2 linked regions of the Homo sapiens genome follow. The gene in region 1 interacts genetically with each later gene. Each region holds a gene or a part of one and is shown on either strand. Other genes may lie near its edges.

Region 1 (16,296 bases):
GTGGGGAAAAGATTGAGAAATCGGATGGTTGCCGTGTCTGTGTAGAAAGAAGTAGACATGGGAGACTTTTCATTTTGTTCTGTACTAAGAAAAATTCTTCTGCCTTGGGATCCTGTTGATCTGTGACCTTACCCCCAACCCTGTGCTCTCTGAAACATGTGCTGTGTCCACTCAGGGTTAAATGGGTTAAGGGCGGTGCAAGATGTGCTTTGTTAAACAGAAGCTTGAAGGCAGCATGCTCGTTAAGAGTCATCACCACTCCCTAATCTCAAGTACCCAGGGACACAAACACTGCGGAAGGCGGCAGGGCCCTCTGCCTAGGAAAACCAGAGACCTTTGTTCACTTGTTTATCTGCTGACCTTCCCTCTACTATTGTCCTATGACCCTGCCAAATCCCCCTCTGCGAGAAACACCCAAGAATGATCAATAAAAAAAATAAATAAATAAATGCTAAACCGTCACAGCTGTAGATCATGAGCCTGCTCTTTTGACCCCCACATTCTCACCACCTGATTCTCTGTTGGATTACCAATAAACAGCGTGGGCTCCCAGAGCTCGGAGCCTTCGCAGCCTCCACAATTGTGATGGCCCCCTGCTCCCACTTTACTTCTCAAACTGTGGTTTTCTCAATCCTTTGACTCTACCGGACTTTGTCACCCCCAGGATCTGGTGTTGGGTCTGATCACCCCAACAGCATCCATTCTATGCCTGCTATGTGCTAGGTACTTTGTTACCCAGAGAGGAGGAAGAGAAAGTGCATATCTAAAAAAGATGAGGAGATAAATCACAGCCATCATGGTAGGCTGAAAACATCGTCCCCAAAGACATCCATGTCCTAAGCCGCAGAACCTGTGGATGTTATAACACATGTAAAGTGCCCACACGTGGCCTGGCATGTAGTTGGAGTTCAAGTATTAGTCAGCATTAATTGTAAAAAATTATTTTGTTTTCTAACTTAAAAATGTTTTTACTAATTTATTTTGAATGGACAAATAACAATTGTCTATATTTATGGAGTAATAGTGAAAAATTTGAAATGACTTCATAAACGTTCATCAAGATGGGGAAGGACTATATTACATATTATATTTAATGAGATGAATTTATACTGACATGAAAAAATTATGAAAGATTTTAACCAGCATGGCCCTTATTTCATTTGTATAGTTTCCATGGCAGAGGGTAGGAATAATTTGGGCAAGCACATTTAAAGCTTCAACTTATATACTAGGGTAAATCACATCCACTCATATTCCACTGTCCAAGGCAAATCACAGGGGTTCTTCCTATTAGGAAGCACTGCAAGTCACATGACTAAGGGCATAAATGTATAACCATCTTGTGGGGAGAAAGTGGATAGTTAGGAACAGTAATACAATCTATCAAAGCTGGTTAGAGCCCACCATGGAGTAGATATCCCACACTGTGTGTGTGTGTGTGTGTGTGTGTGTGTGTGTGTATGTGTGTGTGTATTTCTGTTTACTTTTATGACCCATATCTGTGGGCCACACATATGGGGAAAACACTATGCCTGTAGACACCCCAAGCAAATGAGATTACCATGGAACCTCAATAATGAGGGATAACTTCCAATTTCTTAATTCTCCACTGATGAGATGTGGATACTTGAGTGATCCCCAGGCTCATTCCCAAGTGAAGATTTTCAGTCCTTCGTAATACCTTGGACATTCAAATTTGTATTTAGTTTCTTGTGAAAAAATTTTCATTTAATTTTTACAACAGCATTATAGGATAGCTACTATTATCCTCATAATTCACTATGCATTATGGGCCTTTCAGAAGCACTCTGATTGTTAAAACCCTCTAATTAGGAAGCCTAATTAGACATGCCATTTTTGAGCAATTTGAGGGGATAGAGGTGGGGAACCCCCTTGCATCAAAGTTATAACTGTGCCTCAGGGATAGATACATGTGCAACAGAACCCAGAATAGGTATGCTCATTTTTCAAAACTAAAACCCAGGCTTTATAGGGTTAGGGTAAAAAAAATGGCTTTGGATTCTTGTCAATCAGAGGAAGAAGAAGGTCATAGAGAGTTCTTAGGGTCATAATTTTACATTGCCTAAAAATATTTTAGAGTAGGGTGAATCATGAGAAACATTTTGGCTTCCTATGGTATATTATTGAGACAACCTGTCCCCTACATGGAAATATTGTCACGGGATTCTTGGGGTGTTGCTTTGTGAGACAGAAACCTCTGTGGCCATTGGTACTTTTGCACAAGTTTTGCTCAAGCCTATTGGGCTTGTTTGGTCCATTCAGCCTGGCAGGCTGCACATGGCTCATGCTACCAGCCTGGATCCCATGCCAGCCAAGGGCCAGCCAGATGCAGAGCAGAGAGGGGTGTGTGAGCAAATATGAGGTCCAGCCACTATGCACAGCCAGGCATGCCAGCTGTGGCAAGGCAGGCAGCTCCAGGTGCCAGTATGGGCACTGACTCCCTGTGAGGCTCCAGCTGGACCAGGGGTGCCACAAGCAGATTTCATGGCTGGCACTGGAGAATGCAGTGGTGCCTGGAAGCTTGGAGATGCCAAGAGCTAAAGAGCCCCAAAGAGGGTGTCACAGCCCTGGCTCAGTGAGCTCCTAGGTCTGGGCTTCCCAAAGGGCTGCAGCTCCTCTCTCCTTCTCTCTTCTCTCCTTCTTGTTGCCCACAATGTGGCAAGCAATGGGCATGTTTCAGCCCTGTTTGTGTTACAACTCTTTTAGCTCCACCATTTGGCGGGTCCTGAGTTCTTGTCCTGCGTCCAAGTAGAATGATGTAAGTTGACAAGTGGAGGGTAAGCAAGGTGAAGAGAAACTTTATTGAGTGACAGAACAGCTCAGAGGAGACCCACATTGGATAGTTCCTCTCCACAGGCAGGTTGTCCCATTGAGTGTTCAGTTCTCAGCAGAGAGGAGACCCTGGAGTGGGTAGCTCCTCTCTGCAGTTGGTTGTCCCAATGTCTGCTTAGCTCTCACAGAGAGGAGACCCTGGAGTAAGCAGCTCCTCTCCACAGCTGGCAGGTCATCATTGTCAACTCAGCTCTTAGCAGAGAGTAGACCCTGGGGTGGGTAGCTCCTCTCTGCGGCTGGTTATCCCACTGTCTCAAGTCTGGCTGAGTCTGGGGCTTTTACAGGCCTCAGAGGAGAGGAAGTGTGCGCCAACTGGTCCATAGGCACCCAGATAAAACACAAGTTCTCACTCTGGTTTTTGGGACCAGCAGCCCAGCCTCCAGGCTTCAGGCCCTCCCCAGCTTGAGGGTAGGTCTTCACCGGTGACCTGCTCCCTTCCACCCAGGAGACTGCCTCCTGCTGGCATTCACAGCACCCAAACTGTTTGTGCAAAGGGGCACCTGCAGGCAAGCACAGAGGCTGAGCTGCCCCAGCACCCCCTTGGCCTCCCTCCCATGCTGGCACCCAAAGTCCTGAGGGGGCCAAAGCCATGTGTCAGTGCTGCCTGGAGTGGGTGCACACCTGGCCAGGCTGCAATAGCACCCAGCCTCAGCTCCAACCTTGCTCTGGGAATGGAGTGGGTGCTGGGAGCAGAAAGAGGCCAGGCAATGGGAGGAGACACTTCTTAGCCTGCAGGAATGGGGTGGGAGGTCTTACAGGGCCCCCAAGAGTGCAGAGATGCCCAGGTCTGCAGCTGTGGTTTGAGCAGCTATAGCTGCACCCAGGAGGGTGGGGCTCCTGCCTGCTCCAGGAACCCAAGAGCACAGGGAGGCCGAGTTGGTGGACATGACTCAGGCAGCTGCAGCTGTGCCTGAGAGGGTAGGGCTCCTGCCTGCTTTTAGCCCCAAAGAGCACAGGGATGCCCAGGTCTGCAGCTGCAGCTGGGCAGCCACAGCTGTACCTGGGGAGCAGGAAGCTCCTGCCCTGCCAACTCAGAAGGAGGCAGGGCCTCCACCTGTTCCTGGTTCCCCCAGCTCCATGGAGCTGGCAGCCCTGGTGTGCCACCCCCATTGCAAGTGGCATCATGACAGCAGCTGCTCTAGATAGGCCGTCACTGCCATCAATATGTCACAAAAGTTAAATTTCCAGTTTGGCAAACTCAAAAGCCTTCAGGGACTAGCTGGGCAGATTGCATAAACGTTACACTGCTGGTTGGAGAACATAAAGAATGAAATTCTGGGTGACCAATGTGATGGCATGGCATGACAGTCAAAAGGCATCCAGTTAAAAAGGAAAACACTGTCCTTTCAAGCAAAAAGACCGTGGGCAAATTTTGATGCCTACAATTTCTAAACTATGTTCTCAAAGATTAACTTGATAATATTACTATTTTACAACCTTACCTTTGATAGTAAAAGGGAGTGGCAATTCTCTGAGGTGACTGGGCAAGAGTCCTGTGAAACCAACTTACTTTTTTTCTATACTTCTATACTGTGGTATATTTTCCCTGGCTTTCTGGGTTCTAAATTTATTACATGTTATTTCATGACAAAGAGGTATACTGGCATCAAAAGTCAAAACACAGTTTTTCATTTCTTGCAAGAAAGAAAACCCAAGTTAAGTGTTTTTCATCCCAGCACAAAAATCTTCCACCCATGGGCACGGACCTAATTCTAACCTAAGCTCAAAGTTCCAAGTTCATTTACTCAAGAGGTCTGAATAAATGTTTACTTTGGTCACAGCTTTTATCCAATTTCCGTATCTGACTCACTAGGTGCTTCTAACTGGTGCCCTGATGTTACCTAACAGAGCAAGGATACAACAAACAGCAAACATAATTTGTTTCTTAATCTGTGCTTAATCCATGCTTGTTTTGGTAATGTCTGCACATGCTAAGTCCCACTGACAGTGTTAGTTGGTTAGCATTAATCTTATGGAGTTGCTGTTGCCAAAGGACATATCCTTTCTGTGGAGGAATAAAACAATTAACAAAAACAGCATGATTGTATAACCTGAACAATGAATGAAAAATGAGTTGAGGCTAAATTTTATTCTGGGAGTTAATCACGACTCACAGAAAACACTGGACCAGCTTCCTAAACTTTCTGTGCCTTGGTTTGCCCATCTGTGAAATGCACTCTCTGTACTTCAAAGTTATAACAATCATATGCCCTAGATTTTAAAATTGTTCCACAGGCACCTCATTCAAACATTCAACAATATTTATTGAGGGCATACTATTGTAATGCCTAACCTTGTTTTTACTAACCCTGTTTTTAGATTCTCTCTTTCCTTTAATCACCTAGCCTTGTTTCCACCTGAATTGACTGTCCCTTAGCTAAGAGAGCCAGACAGACTTCATCTTGGCTCTTTCACTGGCAGCCCCTTCCTCAAAGACATAACTTGTGCAAGCTGACTCCCAGAACATCCAAGAATTCAATTAACTGATAAAATACTGTGGCGAGCAATATCCGCAGTTCCCAGGAATTCGTCCAATTGATAACGCCCAAAGCCCCACGTCTATCAGTTTGTAAGAGTCTTAAAGCCCCTGCACCTAGAACTGTTTACTTTCTGGTAATCATTTATCCTTTTAACTTTCTGCCTACTTTACTTCTGGAAAATTGTTTTAACTAGACCCCCCCTCCCCTTTCTAAACCAAAGTATAAAAGAAAATCTAGCCCCTTCTTCAGGGCCAAGAGAACTTTGAGCGTTAGCCATCTCTCAGCCGCTGGCTAAATAAACAGACTCTTAATTCGTCTCAAAGTGTGGCGTTCTCTCTAACTCGCTCAAGTACAACACTATGTGCCCAGCACTGTTTGTACAAATCCAACACATCCCACCAGTTGCTCGGGCCACATCCCTGAACCCAACCTTTGCTTCTTCATTTCTCCCAGATGCTCAATCAGTGAATCCTATAGGCTCTATCTTTTCAATAGATCTAGTAGCAGACCACTACTCACCACTCCACTATCACCATGCTGGCCCCAAAACTATCAACTCTTGCCCAGACTACTGCAATAGTTTCCAAACTGCCTCCTTCCTTCCATCCTGATCATCTACAGATCTCTTCATACAGTATTCAGAGCAAAACTTTTCTATGTGTCACCTCACTGGCAGACCTGGAGTCTCTCAGCTACCTTTCTTAGCTGTATTTTAGGTACCAGACTTAGTATACCAACAGTCTACCTGGCTTATAGCTAGGACTCTATCATCTGGTATTCTGTTACAACAAATGTACTTTAAGTTAAAAATAATAAACAGGCTTATATTTAAGTGGCAAGTGCTTGATATGGCTGCTTTAGCAGATAAGTCTACTGGTAGAATCTAGAGGAGAGGAAATAAGTCATACATGGAGACCAAGATGCAAAAACCACTCATGAGCAGCCACATAGGACAGAGGTCCCTCTGGAGAAGCCACCAAAGGATATAAATCTCTCTTCAGGTTTGTTTTGAGAAAACACCCAAGCAGGAAAGCTGCTGTACAAAATTACTATTGCCCCATTATGCGATTGTGTTTTACTTTTGTCTTAGCATTAATCCTACCTTGTGGGGAAAAGAAAGAGAGCTCAGACTGCTACTGTGTCTGTGTAGAAAGAAGTAGAAATAAGAGACTCCATTTTGGTCTGTTCTAAGAAAAATTCTTCTGCCTTGAGATGCTGTTAATCTGTAACCCTACCCCCAACCCTGTGCTCCCTGAAACATGGGCTGTGTCCACTCAAGGTTAAATGGATTCAGGGCTGTGCAGGATGTGCTTTGTTAAACAAATGCTTGAAGGCAGCATGCTTGTTAAGAGTCCACTCCCTAATCTCAAGTACCCAGAGACACAATACACTGCGGAAGGCCGCAGGGACCTCTGCCTAGGAAAGCCAGTTATTGTCCAAGGTTTCTCCCCATGTGATAGCCTGAAATATGGCCTTGTGGGAAGGGAAAGACCTGACCGTCCCCCAGCCTGACACCCATAAAGGGTCTGTGCTGAGGAGGATTAGTAAAAGAGAAAGGAAGGCCTCTTTGCAGTTGAGATAAGAGGAAGGCATCTGTCTCCTGCTCATCCCTGGGCAATGGAATGTCTCGGTGTAAAACCCGATTGTATATTCCATTGACTGAGATAGGAGAAAACCACCTTAGGCCTGGAGGTGGGACATGTGGGCAGCAATACTGCTCTTTAAGGCATTGAGATGTTTATGTGTATGCACATCAAAAGCACAGGACTTTTTTCTTTACCTTGTTTATGATGCAGAGACATTTGTTCACATGTTTTCATGCTGACCGTCTCTCCACTATTACCCTATTGTCCTGCCACATCCCACTCTCTGAGAAATGCCCGATAATGATCAATAAATACTAAGGGAACTGAGGCTGGTGCCAGCGCAGGTCCTCTGTATGCTGAGCGCCGGTTCCCTGGGCCCACTTTTCTTTCTCTATACTTTGTCTCTGTGTCTCTTTTTTTTCTTAAGTCTCTCATTCCACCCGACGAGAAATACCCACAAGTGTGGAGGGGCAGGCCACCCCTTCACTACCTGATTTTTATTTATTGCTTGTCTCCTCCTTTTAAAATGTAAGATCCAGGAGATAAGTGGCCTCTATCTTCAGTACCATAGAGTGCTTGGCACATAGTATGTAATTCAGTCAGTGTCAGGCCTCTGAGCCCAAGCTAAGCCATCATATCCCCTGTGACCTGCACGTACACATCCAGATGGCTGGTTCCTGCCTTAACTGATGACATTCCACCACAAAAGAAGTTTAAATGGCCCGTCTTTGCCTTAAGTAATGACATTACCTTGTGAAAGTCCTTTTCCTGGTTCATCCTGGCTCAAAAAGCTCCCCTACCGAGCACCTTGTGACCTCTCACTCCTGCCCGCCACAGAACAAACCCCCTTTGACTGTAATTTTCCTTTACCTACCCAAATCTTATAAAACGACCCCACCCCTATCTCCCTTCGCTGACTCTTTTCGGACTCAGCCCACCTGCACCCAGGTGAAATAAACAGCTTTATTGCTCACACAAAGCCTGTTTGGTGGTCTCTTCACACGGACGCGCATGAAAGTCAGTATTTATGAATGACTCAAGACACAAAAATAGCTTCATAAAACAGTGCTTTGCTTGAGTTTTTATGAATAAACCAATCTGAAGTCATCCCTTTTCTAGCTCAGAACAAATTTCTCCCTTTTATTTTAGAGGAAGATGAGAATGGAGGGTACAAATTTAACATGAGTTTACTGAAGAAGGAAGCACCAAGATTAACCTAAATGAGAATACTATTCTAATGACATTAGCCAGAGAATAATATCGTTCCTGTTCCAGTACTGCCAATTACCATTACAAGTCCCAATATCTTCATTTACAATGTGGGGACAATTATAACACCTAATTATTGGTTATTGTGAAGGTTAAATAAGAAAATATACTTAAAGCCCTTAGGACACCACCCAGAACTTCATCAATAAATGCAGCTATTTTGTTATTATCATATTTATATTAGTGGTATACTACATCATAAATCCACTCAAAGCTGATGCTGAGTCACGGTGACCCCTAACTGAACACATTGCCTCAATCTGCTCCCCATAATGCACTTGAGATACCCACTGCCACAATGACGTCTTTGGTGATTTTAATTTACTACTATTCAGAGGTTCCCAATTTTGGCCTACAGGTCACAGGCAGTAAGAAAGGGATTTCAGGGACTAAATCAATTTATCACTAGGTAAACCGAACAAGAACAGTTTGATCTTATCGTGAATCACTGGAGGGCACGGAACAAGTCTTACTTCTAGAACCCCCAGGGCCCAGCGGAGTGTCTGACACATGATAGTCGATGTTGATTAAATAATAAATGAATGATGAACACATGCCACCTCCTTGACGGGCAGTTCAGGCAATCAGACGTCCTGTGCGTGATCAGACGCCTAGCGCTTCAGAAGCACGACTGGTGAGAACTGGGCAGCCCTTCCACGCTCCGCACTGCAAGAACTGCCTGTCCGGAAGGGTGACTGCACCAGCTCCGCTCCGGATATCTTGGCAGGACGCGCCCTCTGGCGGCGCCTCGCTCGTAGGTGGGCCCCAGCGCGCAGTCGCGCGCCCCCGCGCGTTGGGAAGTTGGGAGGGAGGTGCGCGCTTGGCCGCGCGGGGCGGGGCCTCTACCGGCCCGATGGAGCGCGCGGGCGCTACTAGCCGCGGGGGCCAAGCCCCTGGCTTCTTACTGCGGCTTCATACTGAGGGCCGAGCCGAGGCGGCGCGGGTGCAGGAGCAGGACTTACGGCAGTGGGGGCTGACAGGTGAGCGGGCTCCGGGCGGACTTCGGCCAGGCGGGCCAACCTATTGGGACTGCCTCTTGCGGGCCGGGGGCGCAGCGGGTGGGCCGCCCGGTGGGCAGTTTACCCGCTCGCGCCAGGGCCTTCCTTCGCTCCTGCCGTGGGCGGAGAGAAACTGCGCCCGGGCTTGGTGGCCACGGCCCCCGCCTGCGCGGCGCGCGGGGCCGGCGGACGCCAGATGAATGAGGTCGCGGGCCCGGTAGCCAGGCCTGGCCCCTGGCCTGTGGAGGGGAAACGTGGTGAGATCAGCGCCACCTGCAGGCCTCCGCTGAAGAGTTGGACGGCCTGGTGCACCAAGGATGTAGGTTTCCAGTTGCTGTTCCGGTGGGTTTGGGTCCCGGCCTGGGGAGTTTATTGGTTGCTTCTGTAAAACGATCAACTCATCTCCCAGCTTCAGCTTCTCCGTTTACTGTGCGCGCGCAGTTATTGGAGAATTCGCCACGGATTAATTCTCCGGATCGAGTTACGTGCGGTAGTGAGCGGACAAACTCAAGCAAAGCACTGTTTATGAAGCTATTTTTGTGTCTTGAGTCATTCATAAATACTGACTGAACCACGTACTATATGCCAACTTAGCTTGTCCGCTCACCACCGCACGTAACTCGATTTATTGACACTAGCCCTTACGGAGAGTCTGCAAAGCGCGAACCTTGCATGCCCCCCAGCCCTGCCGCTGCATGGCTGACCGTACTTCCTGCAGCTCCGAGACCCCGCTCTCCTCCTGGGTCTGCGCTGACTCGCCGCTGAACCGCCCCAGCCTCGTTTTCCTTACTTATAAGTTGGGAACGTAGTGTGTGCTTTGACTGTATTGACAGAATCATGCATCAGTAATAATACAGTCGTTTATTCATTACTTATTGAATGCTACTGGGAGCGTATTCTTAGGCATTGGCTACAAAGATGAGCAAAACAAATAGGGACCCTTCCTACCTAGAGTTTTAGACTAGTGAGAGTGCATTTAAAAGTATAAACTAATTTATTTAAGTGCTCAGTACCACGAAAGAGTAAGGTTTGTCATTCTAGGAATGAAACAAAAGGTGCAATTCTGTGTTCAGCTTAGAAGACTGAAAGATGAAGTTGAATGGAGAGGACGCTGACATGAAAGAGAAAGACCTCTCTCCTTGATTCCCTGAGTCTGTAAGAATGTGTGGCTGTAAGGAGTATGTATCCAGTTTTAAGTATGAGCTTGTAGACTGGTCTTTTTATGTTTGACTTTATCTTAACGAAAGTTTATGTTTGTGGGTTTGCCTATTTCCTTGCAAGTGTTGGGAATGGTTCTTTAAGAACTTGTGTGAGAGAGGGCTCAGAAAAGTGTGCCAGTTGATACTTAGCTGTGGATAATATGCCAGGAGAAACGTACATATGGGCAAGTGTTTTAGTGAAAATGAGGAGACAAGAGGTTGCAAGTTTGAGTGGATGGAATGGAGTGAGTAAATTCAGAATTAAGTAGGCAAATGTGGCAACTTGGATAAATTGGTAGTGGAGAAGGAAAATAGAAAAGCAGAGTCAAAGGAATGGCTACTGAATATTATAACTTGTAATTTCTATTTCTGTTTACCAGAATAAACTAGTGTTATGAGAAACTATTCTTCATGAGTTGGTTAAAAAAATTCTTACTACTTTTTTTTCGTTTGGTTACAGAAGTAGTACGTATTTTCAGTAAAACATTCAGGGAAATAGCCTATGCATAAAGAAAATAAATATTAATCTCCATAATCTCCTTACTGTTAACATGTTCTCTATCCTGTATAATTTCTTTTACTTTCTGGTGGAGGGGGAAGGTGAAAAATGGAGTTTCATGTACATTTTTTTGGGAAATCATAACTTTTTTTCCTTATCATTCAGTCTTCTTCAACATCATTCTTAATGGTTACAGTTTTTCAGTATATGGATGTACCATAGTTTAGACAGTCCCTCTTCTTGGTATTTAGGTTCTTTTTTTTGCTATTGTAAGTAACATAAATATCCTTGTAACCAAATATTTATTATAGGTATGGACGTTTAATTCCTGAAAGGTACCATTTCTAGAATAAAGAGTATGCAAAATTTTTGCTTATTTCTCTATACTCTCAGCAACACTGGTATTTTCTAATTTGAGAAGTTAATATGCTATCGTATTGTTTAATTTAATGTTTATTTGGTTACCAATATTGATGGACATTTGGATATTCATCTTTGGATCATGAAGTTACCTTAGGACCTTTTTGTTTCTGGAATATGCAGACCTATTACTTCTTGCTGTTTTGCTTGCTTTTTCACTACTTGTCATCTCCCTGACAGAAGGGCAAAAGAATCTACATCTGGAGGTTAAAAAGCTAAAGACTACCTTTCCCAGACCCCACTGTAGTTTGGTTGTAAACGTGACTTGGCTTTAGCCAGGCACGTGACTGGGAGATTTGGAAGGGGAAAGTGAGGGGAAGGACACAGAGGGGTTTGGATTTTCCGCTTCCCACTTAGCTACTACCTCATGGGTCTGTGGGAGGGTACAGAGCATTCATTTTGTTATCATGGATTGTGGCTGCGTTGATAGGTCCCTGGGGCTGACAGTACCGTGGCCTCCTGGTTGGTTCCTGGCTTCCAGGTCGTGGAGGTAGATACTTCCTTGGTGTGTCCATACTGTGGTGCTTGATTTAGCAGTTGTACCCAGAAGATCAGCCTAGATGTTACTCCTCCAGGCCTTTCGACAATTTTGTGGTGATCTAATTCCCTGTATTACATTCCTTTCTGCCTAACCTACCAAGGGTAATTTCTGGTTTTTGCTGTTGACTCCTAAGTGTTAAGTATTGTTATCTTTGTGGATATAATTACATATTATTTTTGAAAATTCAACTTTTTTTTTTTTTGAGATAAGGTCTCACTCTGTTGCCCAGGCTGGAGTGCAGTGGCCCATTGCAGCCTCGACCTGGGCTTCAGTGATCCTCCCACCTCAGCCTTCTGAGTAGCTGGGACTACAGGCATGAGTCACCAGTTTTAAGAAATAATACGGAAGGATCCCATGTAACCTTTACCCAGTTTCCCCTCGTGGTCATATCTTGCAATGTGGCACATTATCACATTGTGTACACTTGCAATGATGGTACACTATCACAACAGGATATTGACATTGGTACAGTCAAGATCCAGAACATTTTCCATCTCCACAAGGATCCCTCAACTTGCACTTTGATAGCTACACTCACCTCCCTTCTACCTCACCAATTCCTTAACCCCTGGCAACCACTAATCTGTTCTCCATTTCTATAATTTTGTCACTTTGAAAATGATAGGTGAGTAAAATCATACAATATGTAGCCTTTGGGGACTGGCTTTTTTTCACTCAGAGTAATTCTCTGGAGATTCATCCAGGTCGTTGCACGTATCAGTAGTTTCTTTTTATTGCTGAGTAGTACTCCACAGCACAGTATACCACAGTTTGTTTCACCACTCACCCACTGAAGGATATCTGAGTTGTTCATAGTTTGTGGCTATTGCCAAAAAAGAAAAGAAAGATATTGTAAACATTTGTATACAGATTTTGTATGAAAATAAATCTTCATTTCTCTGTAATAAATGCCTAGGAGTGCTGTGAGTGGGTCATATGGTAGTTGCATGTTTAGTTTTTAAAGAAGCTGCCAAACTGTTTCCAGAGTAGCTGTACTATTTTACATTCCCACCAGCAATGTATGACTGAGTTTGGATTCTTTGCATCCTTGCCAGCATTTGATATTGCTACTTTTTTATATTGACTATTCTAATGTATGTGAAATGCTATCTCATTGTGGCTTAGATATGAATTTCCCTATTGGCTAATGAAATATGTAACCTCTTTGATAAAATGTCTTTTTCTGTCTTTTGCCCATTTTAAAATAGGATCCTTTGTTGTTGTTGTTTTTTCACTGTTGAGTTTTGACATACTCTAGTCTTTATATAATCTAGATACTAATATTTTCTCAGATATATGTCTTACAAAAGTTTTAAATTTTGGCTAAAATTTATCAGTTTATCAATTTTTTCTCTTATGGATAGTTTTCTTGTTGTTTGGTGTCAAATATAAGAACTCATTGGCTATTCCCAGATCCTAAAGAGTTTTTTCCTAAAAGTTTTACAGCTTCTTATTTAAGTCCATGATCTACTTTGAGTTAATTTTTGTTGCACAAATTTTGATATGTTGTATTTTCATTTTTATTTAGTTCAGTGTATTTATTTCCCTGGAGACTTCCTCTTTTGATGGACTGTTTAGAAAGAAGTGTGTTGTCTAGTTTCCAAGTGTTGAGAGATTTGCCTCTAATGTTTCTGTCCATGAATTCTAATTTTATTACATTGTGGTCAGAGAACATACTCTGTACAATTTCAGTTCTTTTAAATGTGTTGGGGTTTTCTGGCCCTGCTTTAGTTTGGATATGGATTATCTGTCCCCACCAAATATCATGTTGAAATTTGATCCCCAGTGTTGGAGGTGGGGCCTAATGAAAGGTGTTTAGGTCATGGGGGCAAATCCTTCCTGAATAGATTAATGCTCTCCCTGAGCAGGGAGCAGAGAGAGTGACTGACTTCTTACTTACTAGCTTCCAGAAAGCTGGTTGTTAAAAAGAGCCTGGCATCCCCCACGCCTTTCTTCCTCTCTCACCATGTGATCTCTGTACATGCCACCCCCACTTCCCCTTCTGCCATTAGTGGAAACAGTCTGAAGCCCTCACCTGAAGCAGATGTTGGTGCCATGCTTCTTGTACAATCTGTAGAACCATGAGCCAAATAAACCTCTTTTTATTTTTAAATTATCCAACCTCGAGTATTCCATAGCAACACTAAATGGACTAAGACAGGCCCTGAATATGTTGTATGGTCCATGGCACTTGAAAACAATGTGTATTCTCCTGTCTTTGGGTATCAGCAGAGCTGCATTCCTTTCTGGAGGCTCTAGGGGAGAATATATTTCCCAGCATCCAGAGGCTGCCCACATCACTTGACTCCTGGCCCCTTTCCTCCAACTTCAAAGCCAGAAACATTGCATCTCTTTGATCCTTCTCTAGCCAGCTTCCTCTCTAACCACAGCTGTTAAAGTTTCTCCGAATGATGCATGTGATTAGATTGTATGTCCATTGCGTTATCCAGGCCCACCTGGATAATTCAGGGTACTCTTCCATCTCAAGCCCCTTAACCTTGATTATGTGTTCAGAATGCCTTTTGCCATATAAGGTCACATACTCACTGATGCCAGGATCAGGGCTTGGACATCTTTGTGAGGGCCACTATTTTGTCTACCACTTCTTCCTTTTACTTTTCACTTATTTAATTATTTTTGGGTTGAATTTCTTGTAGACAATTTATAATTGGGTTATGTTTAAAATCCACTCTGGAAGTCTTATTTTTTTTTTCTTTGAGACGGAGTTTCGCTCTTGTTGCCCAGGCTGGAGTGCAATGGCACGATCTCAGCTCACCGCAACCTCCTGCCTCCCAGGTTCAAGTGATTCTCCCACCTCAGCTTCCTGAGTAGCTGGGATTACAGGCATGAGCCACCATACCCGGCTAATTTTGTATTTTTAATAGAGACGGGGTTTCTCCATGTTGGTCAGGCTGGTCTTGAACTCCCTACCTCAGGAGATCCTCCCGCCTCAGCCTCCCAAAGTGCTGGGATTACAGGTGTGAGCCACTGTGCCCAGCCAAGTCTTTGTCTTTTAATTGGTATACTTACACCATTTATATTTCAAGTAATTATTACTATGTTTGAGCTTAACTCTGCCATCTTATTTTTATTGTTTTTAGTTTATCTCTGTTTCTTTTTCTTGCCTTCCTGTGAATTATTTGAACATTTTTTAGAATTTTATTTTTGTTTATTTACAGTGTTTTTTAGTTTATCTCTTTGTGTAGCTTTTTAGTGGTCGTTACGGGTATTGTATGTAAATGTACGTATGTGTGTATAAAATCACAGACTACTGATATTGTCATTTTACTTATTTGAGTAAAGTATGGAAACATTACTTCCCTTTATATAAACATTACTTCCCTGTATATCTATCTTCCCTTTGTATTTATAGCTTTACTTTTTGTTTATAATTGTCTTAAATATTTCCTTTAGAACCACATCAGACACTGTTATAATCTTTGCTTCAGCGGTCAAACATAATTTTAAAAACTCAAGAAAAGGAAAACCTATTGTATTTACACGTTTTTGAATGCTGCATTCTCACCTTGATGTTCCAAGGTTCCATCTTTTATCATTTCCTTTTTTTCCAAGGGCTTCCTTTAGCCATTCTTTGAGGGTAGGTTTGTTGATGATAAATTCTCTTTGTTTTCCTTCATCTGAGAATTTCCTCTTCATTCCTGAATACCATTTTTCTTGATTACAGGAGTCTGGATTGACAGTTCTTTTCTTTCGATATTTGAAACATGTTGTGGCATTTCTTTCTGGCCTTTAAGATTTCTGACAAGAAATCTGCTTGCATTTGAATAGTTTTTCCTCTTTAAGTAAGGTGTTGTTTGTTTTTTTTCTGGCTGCATTTAAGATATTTTCTTTGTCTTTTGTTTTCAGCATTTTAATAATTACATATCTTGGTGTGTATTTTTTTTTTTTTTTTTTTTGAGATAGAGTCTCTCTCTGTTGCCAGGCTGGAGCGCAGTGGCGCTATCTCAGCTCACTGCAACCTCCGCCTCCTGGGTTCAAGCAATTTTCGTGCCTCAGCCTCCCGAGTAGCTGGGACTACAGGCACCCGCCACCACGCCCAGCTAATTTTTGTATTTTTAGTAGAGATGGGGTTTCACCATGTTGGCCAGGATGGTCTCAATCTCTTGACCTCGTGATCCGCCTGCCTCGGCCTCCCAAAGTGCTGGGATTACAGGCGTGAGCCACCGCGCCCGGCAATGTTTTGTTATGTTTGCGGTTTACTCAGTTTCTTGAAACTGTAGCTCTTTAGCCAGATTTGGGAAGTTTTCAGCTATTATTTATTTAAGTACTTTTTCAGCCCTATCCTCCTTCACCTGTTTTTATTGGACAACATTGAACAAATGTTAGATCTTTTGTGGTAGTCCTGAAGGTCCCGGAGGGTCATTTGTTTTCAGTCTGCTTTCTCTCTCTTCTGATTGTAATCTCTCTATAACTTCTATTCTGTAGAGTTC
Region 2 (15,942 bases), about 79 Mb from region 1:
AAAAAATTAGCCAAGCGTGGTGGCACGAGCCTGTAGTCCCAACTACTCTGGAGGCTAAGGTGGGAGGATCACTTGAGCCCAGGAGGCTGAGGTTGCAGTGAGCTGAGATCACGCCACTGCACTCTAGCCTGGGGGGCAGAGTAAGACACTGTCCTTCCCAAAAAAAACATAATTGAGGGAAGGAGACGCTGCAAATTCCCCCCATCCAAAAACCACACCCTGAGGATGTTTGTCTAAAAAACATTTCAAAAAAGAAAACACACATTAAAAACTGATAATACAGCCCAGGCATGGTGGCTCACACCTGTAATCCCACTGCTTTGGGAGGCCAAGACGGGAGGATTGCCTGAGGCCAGAAGATTGAGACCAACCCAGGCAACAGAGTAAGACCTCATCTCTAGAGTAAAAAAAAAAAACTAGCTGGGTATGATAGTGTGCACCTGTAGTCCCAGCTCCTCAGGAGCCTGGGGCAGGAGAATCACTTGAACCCAGGAATTTGAGGCTGCAGTGAGCTATGACTGCACTACTGCATTCAGCCTAGGTGACAGACTGAGACCTTGTCTCTAAATAAATAAATAATTGATAATACAACAATATTAAGTATCAACTGTGGAACAACTAGAACTCTCATATATTGCTCTTGAAGGTGTGACTTGATACAACCATCTTGGAAAACTCTTTGGCAGAATCTACCAAAGCTAAACATATGCAAACCCTATGACTTGGTAATCCCACTCCCAAATAAACATCTAACCGAAACTGATATGAAGGTGAACCAAAAGGTATGTACCTTCAAGTGGATAGCAAAAAAACTTGAAATGGCCCCCAAAAAATAAAAACAGCCCAAACCTCCATCAGCAAAAGAATGGAAAGTAAACTGATGACTGGTCACCCAATGAAATAGTACATAGCAATGAGAATGAACAAAGTGCACCCACACGAAACCATATGGGTGACCCTCACATTCATAATGTTGAGTAAAAGCAGTCAAGTACAAAAGATCACATAGTATATAATTCCACTTATAAAAAAGCTCAAAAGCAAAACTATAACAATAGAAGTCAGAACTGTGGCTGGGGAAGAGCTGGGAGTGTTCTACACTCTGACCTGGCTTGTGGTCATAGAGGTGAATCCCTCAGTAAAAAATTCATCAAACTGTACACTCCAGGTACACACATGTCACTGTATGTATGTTATTCTTCAAAAACATCATTACAAATAAAATTAGAAAATCGGCCAGACACAGTGGCTCATGCCTGTAATATCAGCAGCACTTTTAGAGGCCAAGGTGGGCGGATCACTTGAGTCAAGGAGTTCCAGACCAGCTGGGCAACATGGCGAAGTCTCATCTCTACAAAAAATACAAAAATTAGTCCCAGCTATTTGGGGGGCTGAGGCGGGAGGATCGCTTGAGTCCTCAAGGTCAAGGCTGCAGTGAGCCACCATGGCACCACTGCACTCCAGGCTGAGCGACAAAGTGAGAACCTGTCTCAAAAAAAATAAAACAGGCCGGGCGTAGTGGCGCGCACCTGTAATTCCAGCTACTCAGGAGGCTGAGGCAGGAGAATTGCTTGTATGTGGGAGGTGGACGTTGCAGTGAGCCGAGATCACACCGCTGCACTTCAGCCTGGGCAACAGAGTGAGACTCTGTCTAAATAAAATGAAATACAATAAAATAAAAGCAGAAAACCATTTACTTCTCAAAATTCAAAGGATTGTGCATTTCCACATATGTTCACAGCTGTGGATATTGTTAGTCTCACACCTATAATCCCAGGTGTGTTGCTGGTGGATGTATAAACGGGTACAGCGTTTCCAAAGGGCAATTTGCCAGAATCTCTAAAGATTTTAAATGTACACACCTCATCAGCAACCCAGCTTCTAGGAATCCATCTCAAAGAAATCATAGTAAAGGTATACAAAGACAAATGTAGAAGGGTGAAAATGACAGCATTATTTTTCACTTTTTTTTTTTTTTTTGTGAGACAGAGTCTCGCTCTGTCACCCAGGCTGGAGTGCAGTGGTGTGATCTCAGCTCACTGCAACCTCCACCTCCCAGGTTCAAGCAATTCTCCTGCCTCAGCCTCTAGAGTAGTTGGGAATACAGGGGTGGGCCACTACGTCTGGCTAATTTTTGTATTTTTAGTAGAGACGGGGTTTTACCATGTTGGCCAGGCTGGTCTCCAACTCCTGATCTCAGGTGATCTTCCCACCTCGGCCTCCCAAAGTGCTGGGATTACAGGCGTGAGTCACTGTGCCCGGCCTATTTTTCACGTTTTTTAACAGAAAAAGAAGAAAAAAAAGGAAACAACCGAAACAATCTAATTTTTTTTTTAAAACCAAGTAATTTATGGGAAGATAGACTGAGCACATGTCATTTAACACCCCTCATGTCCCAAATCCCATGAAGTCAGAGAAGAAGTATCTTAAAGTAAACTAATGTATCCCTAATAGAACAGGAAAAGCATACAGCAGTGTGCCATCAGTGCTTTTGGATCACTTCCTATTCACCCCATTGGTGGAGGAGGGATCTCCCGCCCTCAATAGCATGTGATGGTCAAGGACATGGTACCTGACACTGGACAGAAGAGGCTGGCAGCAGCTTATTGCTCAGAGTCTGGGGGAGAAGGACACCGCCCACCCTGCAGGGCCACATAGGGGCTGCCGTGGGGAGCAGAGTGAGCCAGCAGGGACTGTGGGAGGCAGGCTTTGTAGTGACAAGATGGTGGGGTGACCCTTGGATCCCACATGAGGATGCAATTGGCTTGTTTGAATCTTTTGCCCAGCTGGCAGGAAGGTGAAATCCATTAAGTTGGGGTCTAGGTAGGTAGGGTACAGCTGATCCAGTTGACTGGGGAACCGGCTGGCGGGGAGCCTTTCCTGCTGGGTGGGGAAATATCTAGTTAGTGCCTGGGAATTCATGTTAGGCCCTGTGAGGCCCAAGGATGGAATCACAGGCCTCACAATCTGCAGTGGACCTATATATCAGGAAGCCCTGCAGGATGGACAGCACACAGGATTAGGTGCATGTGGGAGACTCCCAGATAGCAGCCGAGGAGGGGCCTGCTGCCGAGCCAGGAGCGAGTAAGGAAACTGCAAACCCAGGCAAGGAGGAGGGGGTCCTGGCATCTGTCAAGGTGGTGTGGGCACAGCCAGTGTGGGGATGAGGGAGGCTCTGTGGCTCCAGGCTGCTACCAACCCCTGGGGAAGATGGAACTCCCACAGCCAGAGACAACCCACTGGCACCCCCATCGCAGGGGCACACACCCACCCTCACCTCCCCACACACAAAGTCACCAGACGTAGCTGTGGAAAGAAAGCAGGAGATAGGTATCAAGATCGTCTCAAATACACAAATGAGCAGATAAGCAAGAACCACTGAATTGTTGAAGACCGTCAACACTGTGAAAGACACCTACAATAAACGCAGTGAGCTCGGATTCAGTGTTACGGTGACTGGTGATGGCGTCCTTCTTCCCCCACACCTCATTTTCAAATAGGAGCAAGATAAATCGTGTCATGCGATAAGGGGATAAGGGAGGAGAGCATGGAAGAGAGCACAACCAGGTAGGGAAATAACACGTGACCCTCTTCAGAAGTGGGAGGAAGTGGTACGGTCCTTCTTGTCCCAAAGATTCTCCAGATCTACTCTCCCTGGATCAGGCCACAAACAGGGGAGACTCCTGAAAACGCTGCTGCTCTCCATAAGTCCCAGGAAGCCACAAGACCCCAAATTGAACCCATCAATATGTAAGCTGGGGTGGAAAATTGCTACCCGGGAGTATCAAACCACAGCCATGACCAGGATGAATTTGGACCCACAGCCACATCCTGAGAACCAGCTATAGTTGGAGGCTCAGAGCAATCTTCTCACTAACCTCACAATTACACAACCCCACATCTTACCATTTGTGTTTTGGAACACGACATTATGGAAGGGTCTTACTACACCAAACTCAGCAGAACTGACAAAACCTAAAAATTAAAGACATATCATTAAGAGAGCAATAACTTCTAGACTATATTACATTCATTAAACATCAGCTCAAGATACTGGAAAGTAAAACATGTAATGGCTAAAATTTGTTAATCTAATGAAAGATGGACACAGCAGAAGCTTTTGTCAGTGACCCAAGAAATTAAGCTGAGACAGCTTCTCATTAACTCGCCAAAAGTTAAAGAGATAAACAGAACATTATGAAATTGGGAGGGTATTTCTAAAAATGAAGCAAAGCAAGTAGTCAAATCAATGATAGAAAAAAAAAAAGTGTCCCCACATCTGAAGATCTGATTTTTTGGATTGCAGGGCCATTTAGTCCTGAGGAAGAAGAATAATGTAAGATACAACTGTGGCAGACACTGCTAGTTGTCCACGGAAATCTGTCCCTGCCTTCTTCCCAGACATAGGCTAGCCTGCACTCCCATCTCCCTTGTCTCTAGGTGTGAAATGGGAGCCCAGCTCCTCTGTGCAACTTCTGCCTCACCTGCTTAACAGGAAATCCCTGGTGTGGGGCTTTAGACATCCCCCCCACCCCACCACCACACACACATACACCAGCAGTCAGAATTGTGTGTCTCTCTTCTTTCTTTTTTTTCTTTTTGAGACAGTCTTGGTCTGTCGACCAGGCTAGAGTGCAGTGGTGCAATCTCGGCTCACTGCAACCTCTGCCTCCCAAGATCAAGGGATTCTCCTGCCTCAGCCTCCTGAGTAGCTGGGATTATAGGCATGCACCACCATGCCCAGCTAATTGTTTTGTATTTTTAGTAGAGACAGGGTTTCACCGTGTTAGTCAGGCTGGTCTCAAACTCCTGACCTTGTGATCCGCCTGCCTTGGCCTCCCAAAGTGCTGGGATTACAGGCACGAGCCACCATCTCTTCTTTCCACTCCTGATCAATCTTGACAAAATATAAAACCAAACCAAGACAAATCAACTTTGTAAAATAAAGATAAAGTTGGAGGTCTCACACTTTCTGATTTCAAAACTTACTATGATGTGGCGTTGGAATAAAGACAAACATATAGACCAATGGAACAGAATAGAGAGCCCAAAAATAAACCCTCAACATATATGGTTAAATGATTTCAACAAGGGTGCCAAGATCATTCAGTGGGAAAAGGACAGTCTCTTCCACAGATGGTGGATCTCCACATGCAGAAGAATGTAGCTGGACCCATACCTTACACCAAATGTTTGTTGTGAGTTTATTTACTTTTTTGTGTGTGTGGAGACAGGGTCGTGCTATGTTGTCCAGGCTGATCTAGAACTCCTTACCTAGAGACACTGCCAAGGTAAGTGAGGGCCAAGTGGACACTGAGTGATTCTGTGCCTCACTGAGCAAAAATAACTAAACATGGGCGAAGGAGAGCCCAATGATCCCAGGGACAAAATGTCATCACGGGCATTCTGCGCACGCTTGCCAGGATACAGGAGAAGCAACCAGACACTTCATTCATCTTCTCAGAATGTTCATTAACATGTTCAGAAAGGTGGAAAACCTTACTTGCTAAAGAGAAGGAAATTGGAGGCATGGCCAAAAGTATTCAAGGCCCTTTATGAAAAAGAAATGAAAACTGATATCCCTCCTAAAAGAGAAGTAAAACAGAAATTCAGAGATTCTAATGCACCCGAAAGGCCTCCTTTGGGCTTTCACTTTGTGTTCTGAGTACTGCCCTCAAATCAAAGGAGATCCCGGTCTGTCCACTGGCAGTGATGCCAAGAACCTGGGAGGGACATGAGTGACCATGCTGCAGATGGCAAGCAGCCCAAAAAGAAGGCTTCTCAACTGAAGGAAAAGTACCAAGAGCAGAATGCTGCATATCCAGCCAAAGGAAAGCTGATGTGGCAAAAATGATGCTGTCAAGGCCGAAAAAGGCAAGAAAAAAAAACAAAGCGGAGAAAGACAGAGAAGGTAAGGAAAATAAAAAATGAAGTCGATGATAATGACAAATAAGGTGGTTCTATGGCAGCTTTTTTTTTTTTCTCTTGTCTATAAAGCATTTAACCTACCTGGACACAGCTCATTCCTTTTAAAGAAAAAAATTGAAATGTAAAGCCACCTAAGATTTATTTGTAAACTGCATGATGGCGTTCTTTTTCTGTTTTTGTATTATTAACAAGAATTATCAAGTAATTCTTCAGACAACCCTGTCCTGGTGGTATTTTGTATAGCCACCAACTTTGCCTGGTATACTATAGGGGTTATAAATCAGCATGGGAATTTCAAATTTAAGGCACAGTATAAGTTAGTTATATACAAATGTGAAGTAACATTATTAATTAAACTGTTGGCCTGTGCGAAGGGAGGGCCAACTGTGGGATTCAGTCATTCATTCAACAAATATTGGTGAGTGCCTGACACTGTTCCAGGCACTGAGGCTATTGCAACAAAACAGACACAAGCTCCTGCCCTCATGGAGCTTACATTCTGGTGAGGGATACAGAGCCACCAAAAAGGATGGCAGCTGGGCCATGAGAAAGGATCAAAGTCAGGAAGTTAGAATTCGGGGATGGATTGAACATGGGACAAAAGAGAAGAGTCAAGTTGACTACAAAGCATTTGGCCTAAGTAATGCAAAGAATGGTGGGCCATTTCCTGAGATGGGAAGCACTAGGGTAGTTTTGGACATAAATGGAGATGCATATAAGCCATCCAAACTGAAATATTGAGAAGGCAGTAGGTGATAGTTGGCTTTCCTTAGGTTCTAGGGCAGGAATTCTTAACCTTTTGTGTGTGTGCCTAGGACCCCTTTGGTGGTCCATGAAGCCCTTTCCAGAATAAATATTGTGGAGGAACCTACCTTAATGCAATAGTAGCTTCTAGGTACATTATCAGGCAAACTATCCCACAAGTTACAAAACAGAAAGCCTCACAGACCAAATTATGATGCTTGAATTGCAGGGTTTATTGAATCAGTTTAAAACCACTTACAGCAAGAACTCGATGGGGTGCATAACATACACAGGATAGGGTACAGGCGAGGCAGATGGACCACACCACCAGAACCTAGAATTAGGGAATCCTCCCCTCCCCTCCCCTCCCACCCCTCCCCCCTTCCCCCTCCCCTCCCCTCCCCTCCTCCCCTCCTCTCCCATCCTCCCCTCCCCTCCCATCCTCCCCTCCCCTCCCCTTTTCTCTTCTTTTCTTTTTTTGAGACTGTCTCACTATGTTGCCCAGGCTGGAGTGCAATGGCGTGATCTCGGCTCACTGCAACTTCCACCTCCTGGGTTCAAGCGATTCTCATGCCTCAGCCTCCCGAGTAGCTGGGATTACAGGCACGCACCACAATGCCCAGCTAATTTTTGTATTCTTAGTAGAGACGGGGTTTCACCATGTTGACCAGGCTGGTTTTGAACTCCTGACCTTAGGTGATCCACCCGCCTCAGATTCCCAAAGCGCTGGGATTACAGGCATGAGCCACTGCACCTGGCTAATATTGATATGTTTTCCCTCTCTCTGCCGCATCAGCCTGTCCCACTGACAGAGTTGAGGATGCTCAAGGCGGCTCAACAGAGGGTACCTGGAGCAACTCACACTGCACTATCAGAGAGACACAAGTGCAAGCACACTCAGCCACAGCTGCAGCTCACCAATCAGCCTGCTGAACAGACCTGAACTTTAGCTGCATTTTTGGGGCAGAGCATATGGGTGCCAGGATGGGACCATAATCTTATCACCAATGAGTGGCCATTTAGGGATGATATAGTTGTCAACCCAGAGATGGCATGATCATGCCTTTTGACTTGGTCATTCTCTAAGTAAAACTTTTATTTGTTCCATCATATTTTCCACTTATTCTGTTTACCTTCAAAATATCTTTTTTTTTTTTTTTTGAGACAGGGTCACACTGTCACCCAGGCTAGAGTCCAGTGGCACTATCATGGCTCACCACAGCCTCAACCTTCAGGGCTCAGGTGATCCTCCCACTTCAGCCTCCCGAGTAGATGGGACTACAGGCACCTGCCACCACCCCCAGCTAATTTTTGTAGAGACAAGGTTTTGCCATGTTGTCCAGGCTGGTCTTGAACTCCTGGGCTCAAGGGATCCGGCCACCTCAGCCTCCCAAAGTGCTAGGATTATAGGCATGAGCCACTGTGCCCAGCCTACCTTCAACGTATCTAACTGGTTACTAACTTTTAGGATTCGGCCTATGTCTCACAACCTTCTTGCTTACTCAACATCCTTGTCTCTTAAGCCACTAGCTTCTTCTCTATGGTTAACACTTTTTATGAGTTTTATTCATCTGCTTATTTTTCTTATCCTCTATACCAGAATTGAATATTTTCAAATAAAGCACACTCATGTTACAATCTTTGAAATGAAAAAAAAAAATGCATAGGATTAGAAAAGAAACCAATTTTAATAAACTATATTTTGAAGTATAGTTCTATATTAAACAACAAGATCTAGGCCAGGTGCAGTGGCTCATGCCTGTAATCCCAGCAATTTGGGAAGTCGAGGTGGGAGGATTGCTTGAGGCCAGGGGTTCAAGACCAGCCTGGGCAACATGGAGAGATTCCCCATCTCTTTCTTTACACACACACACACACACACACACAAAATATCTGATAGCAACAGGTGCAGTCATTACCACAATTTCGAGTAGTGATGAGCTTAATAATATTTCGAGTTATCACCAACAACTGTAAAGTAACATGAAAACGTCTGTGATGACTATTGCCCACAAAGTCACAGGTACTGCTAATACTCCTGGTATTTGTAGTCAAATTCATAATAAAGGAAATGCTAGGTTTCAGTTGGTATTTTGTCCCGACGGTCTGTGGACGGCAGGTTAGAACGCCCGTCCAAGCCAGGAGGGTGGACCTAGCACTGCAGGGTCCACCTCGGGCCAATCAACTATATTCCCGAGGCGGGGGCCTGCGCTTCCCGGACCCAGCTGCCCTCAGGGGAGAGAGGACACACTTAAGAGTTTGGGGCCGGCGTGGTAGCTCATGCCCCTGATCCCAGCACTTCGGGAGGCTGAGGCGTGAAGATCACTTGTAGCAGGAGTTTGAGACCAGTCTAGCCAACTTGGCGAGACCCTGTCCCTAAAAAAAATTTTTTTTTAATTAGCCAGTTGTGGTGAGCGCCTGTAGTCCCAGCTACTCGGGAGGCTGAGGTGGGAGGATCGCTGGGCTCAGGAGTTCCAGACTGCAGTGAGCCATGATGGCGGCACTGCACTCCAGCGCGGTGAGACTCAGTCTCAAAAATAAAAGGGGGAGGGGTTGGGGGTAAAATTAGTTGTGAAATCAAGTAAGACTTCCTGGGACAGAACAATCAAAGGGGTGGCGCCGGGTCCTCCAAAGAGCTACTAGCTCAGCCCAAGCCCCGCCTCGGCCCCCAGGGCAGCGGCCCGCAGAGCTCCACCCGGCAGGCGCCCGGGAAACTCCGCCCCCCGGCCGGCAGGGGGCGCGCGCGCCGCCGGCCCCGCCCCGTGGACGCGGGTTCCGTGGGCGTTCCCGCGGCCAGGCATCAGCAATCTATCAGGGAACGGCGGTGGCCGGTGCGGCGTGTTCGGTGGCGGCTCTGGCCGCTCAGGCGCCTGCGGCTGGGTGAGCGCACGCGAGGCGGCGAGGCGGCAGCGTGTTTCTAGGTCGTGGCGTCGGGCTTCCGGAGCTTTGGCGGCAGCTAGGGGAGGATGGCGGAGTCTTCGGATAAGCTCTATCGAGTCGAGTACGCCAAGAGCGGGCGCGCCTCTTGCAAGAAATGCAGCGAGAGCATCCCCAAGGACTCGCTCCGGATGGCCATCATGGTGCAGGTGCGGGCCGCTGTGCGGGCGGCGGGGCGGGGACGCGGCGCCCCGGGTTAACTGTGTCCGGGAAGGCTGGGGGAGGGCGGGCCCAGGGAGCGAGCGGGCCCGGGCCCTCGGAGCGGCACTTGGGGCCTATGGGGCCGCGGCCGCCCCTCCTCCCGAGCGGCCCGGCCGACCCTTCCGGAAGGTTTTGCTGATGTTGCAGGAAAAGCCCGGGAAATAAAGTCTGCAGCTGGTGTTGCCTTTCGCTTTGTGAAAACGAGGAGCCTCTTCTCTTCTCCTTTCTGGGTGGCGGTGTTTTATTACTGCCGTTCGCCTCAGGGGTTGGGGGGGAATTGTACATGGTCTCTTTAAGCTAATCTGATTTTGACCTATCTTGTTCTGGAGGGTTTTTGTTCTACATGGATGGTGGCGACTGACATGTGGGTTTTTTTTTTTTTTGTTAAACCTATTTTTGGCAGTCATTTCAACACGTCATTTAAACGCTCACTCTCATTTTTTATTTTAATTAGGCAGAACTATGCAGAAAGGTGTCATTTCTGTACAGTACATTCACTTTGAGCCTAATTTGTGCTTTAAAGTAACATTTTCCCCAAATTTTCCAGATTCACAGACGCGTTCTCTTGGTGCATTTGCAGCTGTCTGGTTTGAGTAAGAGTGGCTCCAGGGGGGTTTCTCATGTGGGCTTTTTGATAGATTGAATCCCCTTCTGAGGTTTCCTGAGCCTTCTGTGAGGTGGTGGGCTTGAAGGCCCCTGTCATTTCCCAGGGGCTCCTGCCTCCAGCTTCCAGTTTGCCGATGTCTACCTTTGTATTAATAATTCTGGTTCTCATCTGCCCTGTTCCTCCTCGCTTCCAACATATTACCCAAGCTTAGTGCTCATGGTCAAGGTAGCTTGATTTTCCTCCCTTCCATGAGCTGTAATGTGTTTTAGGAATGACCAGATATCCCTCAGTGGATTTTCAGTACTTAGTACAAGGGAGGGCGACATTTACCGAGTGGATACCCAAGTGCCAGGTGTACTTCCGTTATCTTATTTCACAATATGCCTGTCATCTTGGTGTCCTCGGGGCATACCTAAGTCAGTACGTGGCACACAGTGCTTATTTGGTAGGCATTTTTTAAGTTCTAAGCACTCTGTTAGGTTTTAAGGACACAGAATCCACCTTTGGGAATTTCCAGTTTGGTTAAACGGGAAATGACTGGTAAACAAACGTTACCGTAAGAGAGGATGGATGCCACCTGATGGAGCTGTGCTCTAGGCATTGTGTGCCTAGGAGTCCGAGATGACCCAGCTAAGGGTGGAAGCTTGATTAGGAGTCGTTAATTCACAGAAGTGGAGCAGAAAGATGAGAATAGGGAAGTAGACAGGGCCTACAATTTGAAGAGCCTTGTTGCCCACTAAGGAACCTAGAACTTACTTTGAATATACAAGGCAGCCTGTTATGAAGTTCTCACTCCTGGTGCAGGAGCTCTTAACCCAGGGTCTGTGGGATGGTAGGTAGAAGGCAAGAGGTCCATGAGTTTAGATAAGAAAAAATTGATATCTCCATCTCCACTAACCTCTAGATAAAATTATTTCCTCTAATCATAAATGTAAGCAGCAAAGCAAAGGCATATTAGCAGTCCCTATTTTTTTTTCACCAGTGATAATTACAGATATTTTCATATCACTTTACAGTTGGAAGTTTTTCAAAATATAATTTACTCTCATTGCTACAAAAATCACAGTTATTAGAGGCTGTACTAGATCTTGTTATTTAATGCTTAAAAGCTCACGGGTTACTGTACCCAAATTACCTTTCAAATGTTTTGATAATTATCTCAGTGTTTCCTTTTCGAGCCTTTTTGTTTGTTTTGTTTTTTGAGATGGGGTCTCACTATGTTGCCCAGGCTGGTCTCAAACTCCTGAGCTCAAGCGATCCATGCACCTCGGCCCCACAAAGTGCTAGGGTTACAGGCATGAGCCACCGTGACTGGCCATTTGCGAGCCTTTTTATTACGCATTTTTAAATGTTATTCTGAGAAAGGGACATCCAGGCGCCTTAACAGGTGGGCAGAGTACCGTGTTCTGGTGGAAAGACAAACAAAACCCAAGTCCAGACTGTGTTGAGGCTAGAACAACACCGCTGTGGAGGAAGTTAGAGGAGGCTTAGCTGTGGGGGAGGCCGGATGGAGGAAACTGAACCTGATCAAGTTTAGCATTCTGGGGCCGGGCTTGGTGGCGCATGCTTGTAATCTCAGCACTTTGGGAGGCTGGGGTGGGCAGATTACTTAAGCTCAGCAGTTTGAGACCAGCCTGGCCAACATGGTGAAACCTGTCTCTACAAAAAAATGCAATGATTAGCGGGTCGTGGTGGTGCGTGCCTGTTAAGTCCCAGCTACTCCGGAGGCTGAAGCTGGAAGATTGCTTGAGCCTGGGAGGTGGAGGTTGCAGTGAGCTGAGATAGTGCCACTGCACTCCAGCCTGGGCGACAGACCCAGACCCAGACCCAGACCCTGTCTGAAAAAAAAAATAGTAATAACAACATTCTGGGCTTTCCTTTGGTATACTTGATAGTGAAAGAAACTCTTTATTATTAAAAGTAACTGTGATTTTTATGTAATGGTGATTAAGGGTGGATTCAGAGTTTTAATTCAGAATTTAAAGTTGGTCTGGTAGACTGAGCTGGTGAAGGCCAAAAAGAAAGAAGCCTTTTCACTTGCTTGAATTTAAATACCTTCTTTTACATTTACATGGGAGTATTGTTCTCTGAGTATCTGATACCTGACACTTTAGCCCTCATGCCTGGGGCATCTTGGGAGGGATGAGCTGGGCCCTCCAGCATTTTGGTGGGAGGAGGATGGCGGTAGACCTTTGAGTTGCTCTGTCCTGGGAGGGTTTGAGCACCCGGAGGCATGCAGTGAGGTCAGTTCATTCTCTCTGTGGCCTAGGTGGACAGGTAGCATGGCCTGTTCTGCACAGAAGGGAACCCAGTTCACCAGCTGCTGGTTGGGTGAGGACCCTGGTATGTTAGGTGCTCAGTTTTTGCTTGGGTGCACAGCCAAAGATTCTGTGCCTTGCCTCAGCTGTGCAGCTAACAAATGGAGTCGATAGTCTTGTGACCTTGGTTTGGTGCCTTTCTGCCACATCATTCTCAGTCCTGAGTTTAGGGCAAAGCATTGCTTTGGTCAGGGGTGCTTCTGCTGAGGCTCTTGTCCTCTAAGCTTGTGCTGTGATTGCACCATTGGGCAGCACCTCCAGGGTGTCCAGCACTGTGCCGGTGGTTGGGGGAGACAGCACCCAGACCAAAGGGCAGCAGGTCTGGGGCCCCTGGCAGAGCCAGGAAGAAGTGCCATAGCCATTACCTGTGCTCTTTATACAAGGGTAACTGGAACATTGCACAGGAAGGGTAGACAAGGGGTAGACAAGCAGGCAGAGCCAGGTCGAGGCCATTGCAAATATTCCATGATAGCCAGATGCTTAGGGATCTGTATCAGCAGCCTAATTGAGATCTGGTGGAACGTTTGAGAGTTGGAACATGAGTATGCTCTCAGAAATGCCATTTGTTGTCTCTTCTACAGCAGGAATTTCCCCATCCTTCCTTTTTTGTTCCATCTGACTTGGAGCCCTAAGCAAACACTGCGTGCCCTCTGTGACATGTTGCTAGAGAATAGCAAGATAGGCCCTTATGAAATAATCACCAAATGCATAGTTCTTAGTGAGGGGAGCTGTGGAAGGAGCATTGGGAGATCTGAGGGAGTGCTCTGAACAGGGCTGGAGAGCATTCCAGACCCAGGGGAAAGCTGATGTTGAGGAGTCCTTGTGCTGCCATAGTCTTAGCTGTGCATTTTAATACATCACATCCAGAAAGAGGCCACTCACAGTGGAGAGAGATAGTGGGGTACCTTATCATTGCTTTTCCAGAGTATTTTCCCTGTCCCCGCAACTCCATCCTAAAAATTCAGCACATTTACTTTTAATGCTGTTTTAATAGTCTTATTGCATCTGTGTGACATTTAGCTTTATGTTCTATAAAAGCAGATGTTTGGGACTTCCCTTACTTTAGTCAGATCACAGTTGGTGTATTTTTAAGTAGCTCTTCCTGCCGGGCAGTGGAGTGTGGTGGGAGGAATCATAGTGTCAAATCATTCATTTGCTGCCTCTGTGACTCCCAACCCCCCAGGCAAGGATTTCCAGCCCCACTGTCTCCATCTGTGAATGAAAGGGCTGGTTCCCACCCAGAGGCAGATTGTGGGATTACACAGGATGGCTTATGAAAGGAGCAGGGACACACACTACATACTGTGTCTTCCCCTTCTTCCCAATCGCTGTCACCGTCCACTCTGTAAAGCCAGGACTGGGTGCAGTGGTTCATGCCTGTAATCCCAGCACTTCGGGAAGCCGAGGCGGGCGGGTCACGAGGTCAGAAGTTCGAGACCAGCCTGGCCAACATGGTGAAGCCCCATTGCTACTAACAATACAAAAATTAGCCAGGCATGGGTGGCACGTGCCTGTAGTCCCAGCTACTCAGGAGGCCGAGGCAGGAGAATCGCTTGAACCCAGGAGACAGAGGTTGCAGTGAGCTGAGATCGCACCACTGCACTCAGTGCAAGACTCGGTCTCAAAAACAAAGCCAGACAGTGCTCGAGGCCTGGGAGCAGAACCTGACCCTGTCACAATGAAAGGCCTAGTGGGAAGCAAACCACCTGGAGAGGGGAACTGTGTTCCCTGTGGCCAGACTTCTCAGGTCCTACGCCTGGGAAACTGCGCCCCAGAAGGCCAGTGAGCAGCTGACTCCAGCTCTAGGCATGCTGCCCCGAACCATCCGCTGTCACAGTTGCCTCAAAGACCTCCATTCATTCCACTCCCATCTGTGTGGCTGCTGCAAGCTTGACACTTTTTTCTGACACACTTTCTCTGCTTTGCTCATTATCTGGGACTTGTTCCTTGTTATTCTTAACTGCAGAGGCACTTAAAGAGCCCTTTTCTGGGGCACACAGGCCCTTTGAGTCCAGGCAAGCCTGGAGCAGTTGTCTGGCCATTCCCAGCAGATGCTGCAGGATTGTGACTCTGCACAAGTGTCTTCTGTGCATTTCACTAGGCCATGAGGCAGCTCACCACTAAATGTAGCAGTGTGTGGTCAAAAGGGACGTGGGGCAGAGCTCAGTGGTAAAAGGCCACCTTTCTCGTGGCTGTGTTTGGTGTCCTAAGAGAATGAGCTCAAGAACAGTGGGCTACAGTCTTCTGACCCTTGGGGAAGATCGTGAGAAGGATGCTGCAGCTCTTCATGTGAGAGCGGAGGCTGTCCTCCTTTCACAGATAGGAGAACAAAAGTTTCATGTGCTATCCCACTGCTGGGGCTGGGACTGGGGTCGAGGTCAAGGTCAAGGTCTAGTGGGTCTAAGTCAAAAGTTAACTGCTTACTTACTTCCCTCTGTTTCTCTTCCTTCTAGTCGCCCATGTTTGATGGAAAAGTCCCACACTGGTACCACTTCTCCTGCTTCTGGAAGGTGGGCCACTCCATCCGGCACCCTGACGTTGAGGTGGATGGGTTCTCTGAGCTTCGGTGGGATGACCAGCAGAAAGTCAAGAAGACAGCGGAAGCTGGAGGAGTGACAGGTGTGTACATACTGGGGCAGCATGGGCATTCAGCCCCCACCCTGAAGCTCCCAGGAGGGCCTCGTCTCAGAGAGCAAAGCAAACCTCCCCCAGCTTGCCCTCTCCCACATGTGCAGATCAAGCGTATGGTGCCCATGTTATTTCAGCAACACCTCCTGGACTCAGCATCATCTGTTGCATGATATTTGGTATTTTGTTTTTCCAGGTGCTTGGAATGTAGCCTTTAAAGTTGTTTTGTTTTTAATATACTTTATTTTTGTTCATGGCAAAAGTAAGCAAAGAACAAAGAGTTTCCAGTACCCCCTCCCCCTCCCACCACACAGGCTCTTCCTTGTCAACACCTCCCACCAGAGTAGTACATTTGTTATAATTGAGGAACCTACACTGACACATCATTATTGCCCAGAGTCCAGAAACTCCTGATGCTCTACATTCTATGGGTTTGGACAAATGTATGATGACATGCATCTGCCATTATAGTATCATACAGAGTAGTTTCAGACCTGCACCCTTCTGCAGCCCCCTTAAGATTAAGGAAGAATAGCTCATCTCTGAGAGGGGAATGAGGTAGGAGGTGGGGCTCAGACA

What was found.
Region 2: of CHD1L (region 1) and PARP1, a change in one rescues a mutant of the other (synthetic rescue), as found in Homo sapiens cells (one study listed by BioGRID).

The regions. Positions count from the first base shown.
Region 1 is NC_000001.11:147,233,663-147,249,958, forward strand, and holds the start of CHD1L (chromodomain-helicase-DNA-binding protein 1-like), read left to right. Parts: upstream 1-9,021; 5' UTR 9,022-9,041; coding exon 9,042-9,168; intron 9,169-9,477; exon of another isoform or gene 9,478-9,528; intron 9,529-16,296. UniProt on the Homo sapiens protein: ATP-dependent chromatin remodeler that mediates chromatin-remodeling following DNA damage.
Region 2 is NC_000001.11:226,401,626-226,417,567, reverse strand, and holds the start of PARP1 (poly [ADP-ribose] polymerase 1), read left to right. Parts: upstream 1-9,474; 5' UTR 9,475-9,638; coding exon 9,639-9,758; intron 9,759-15,188; coding exon 15,189-15,354; intron 15,355-15,942. UniProt on the Homo sapiens protein: Poly-ADP-ribosyltransferase that mediates poly-ADP-ribosylation of proteins and plays a key role in DNA repair.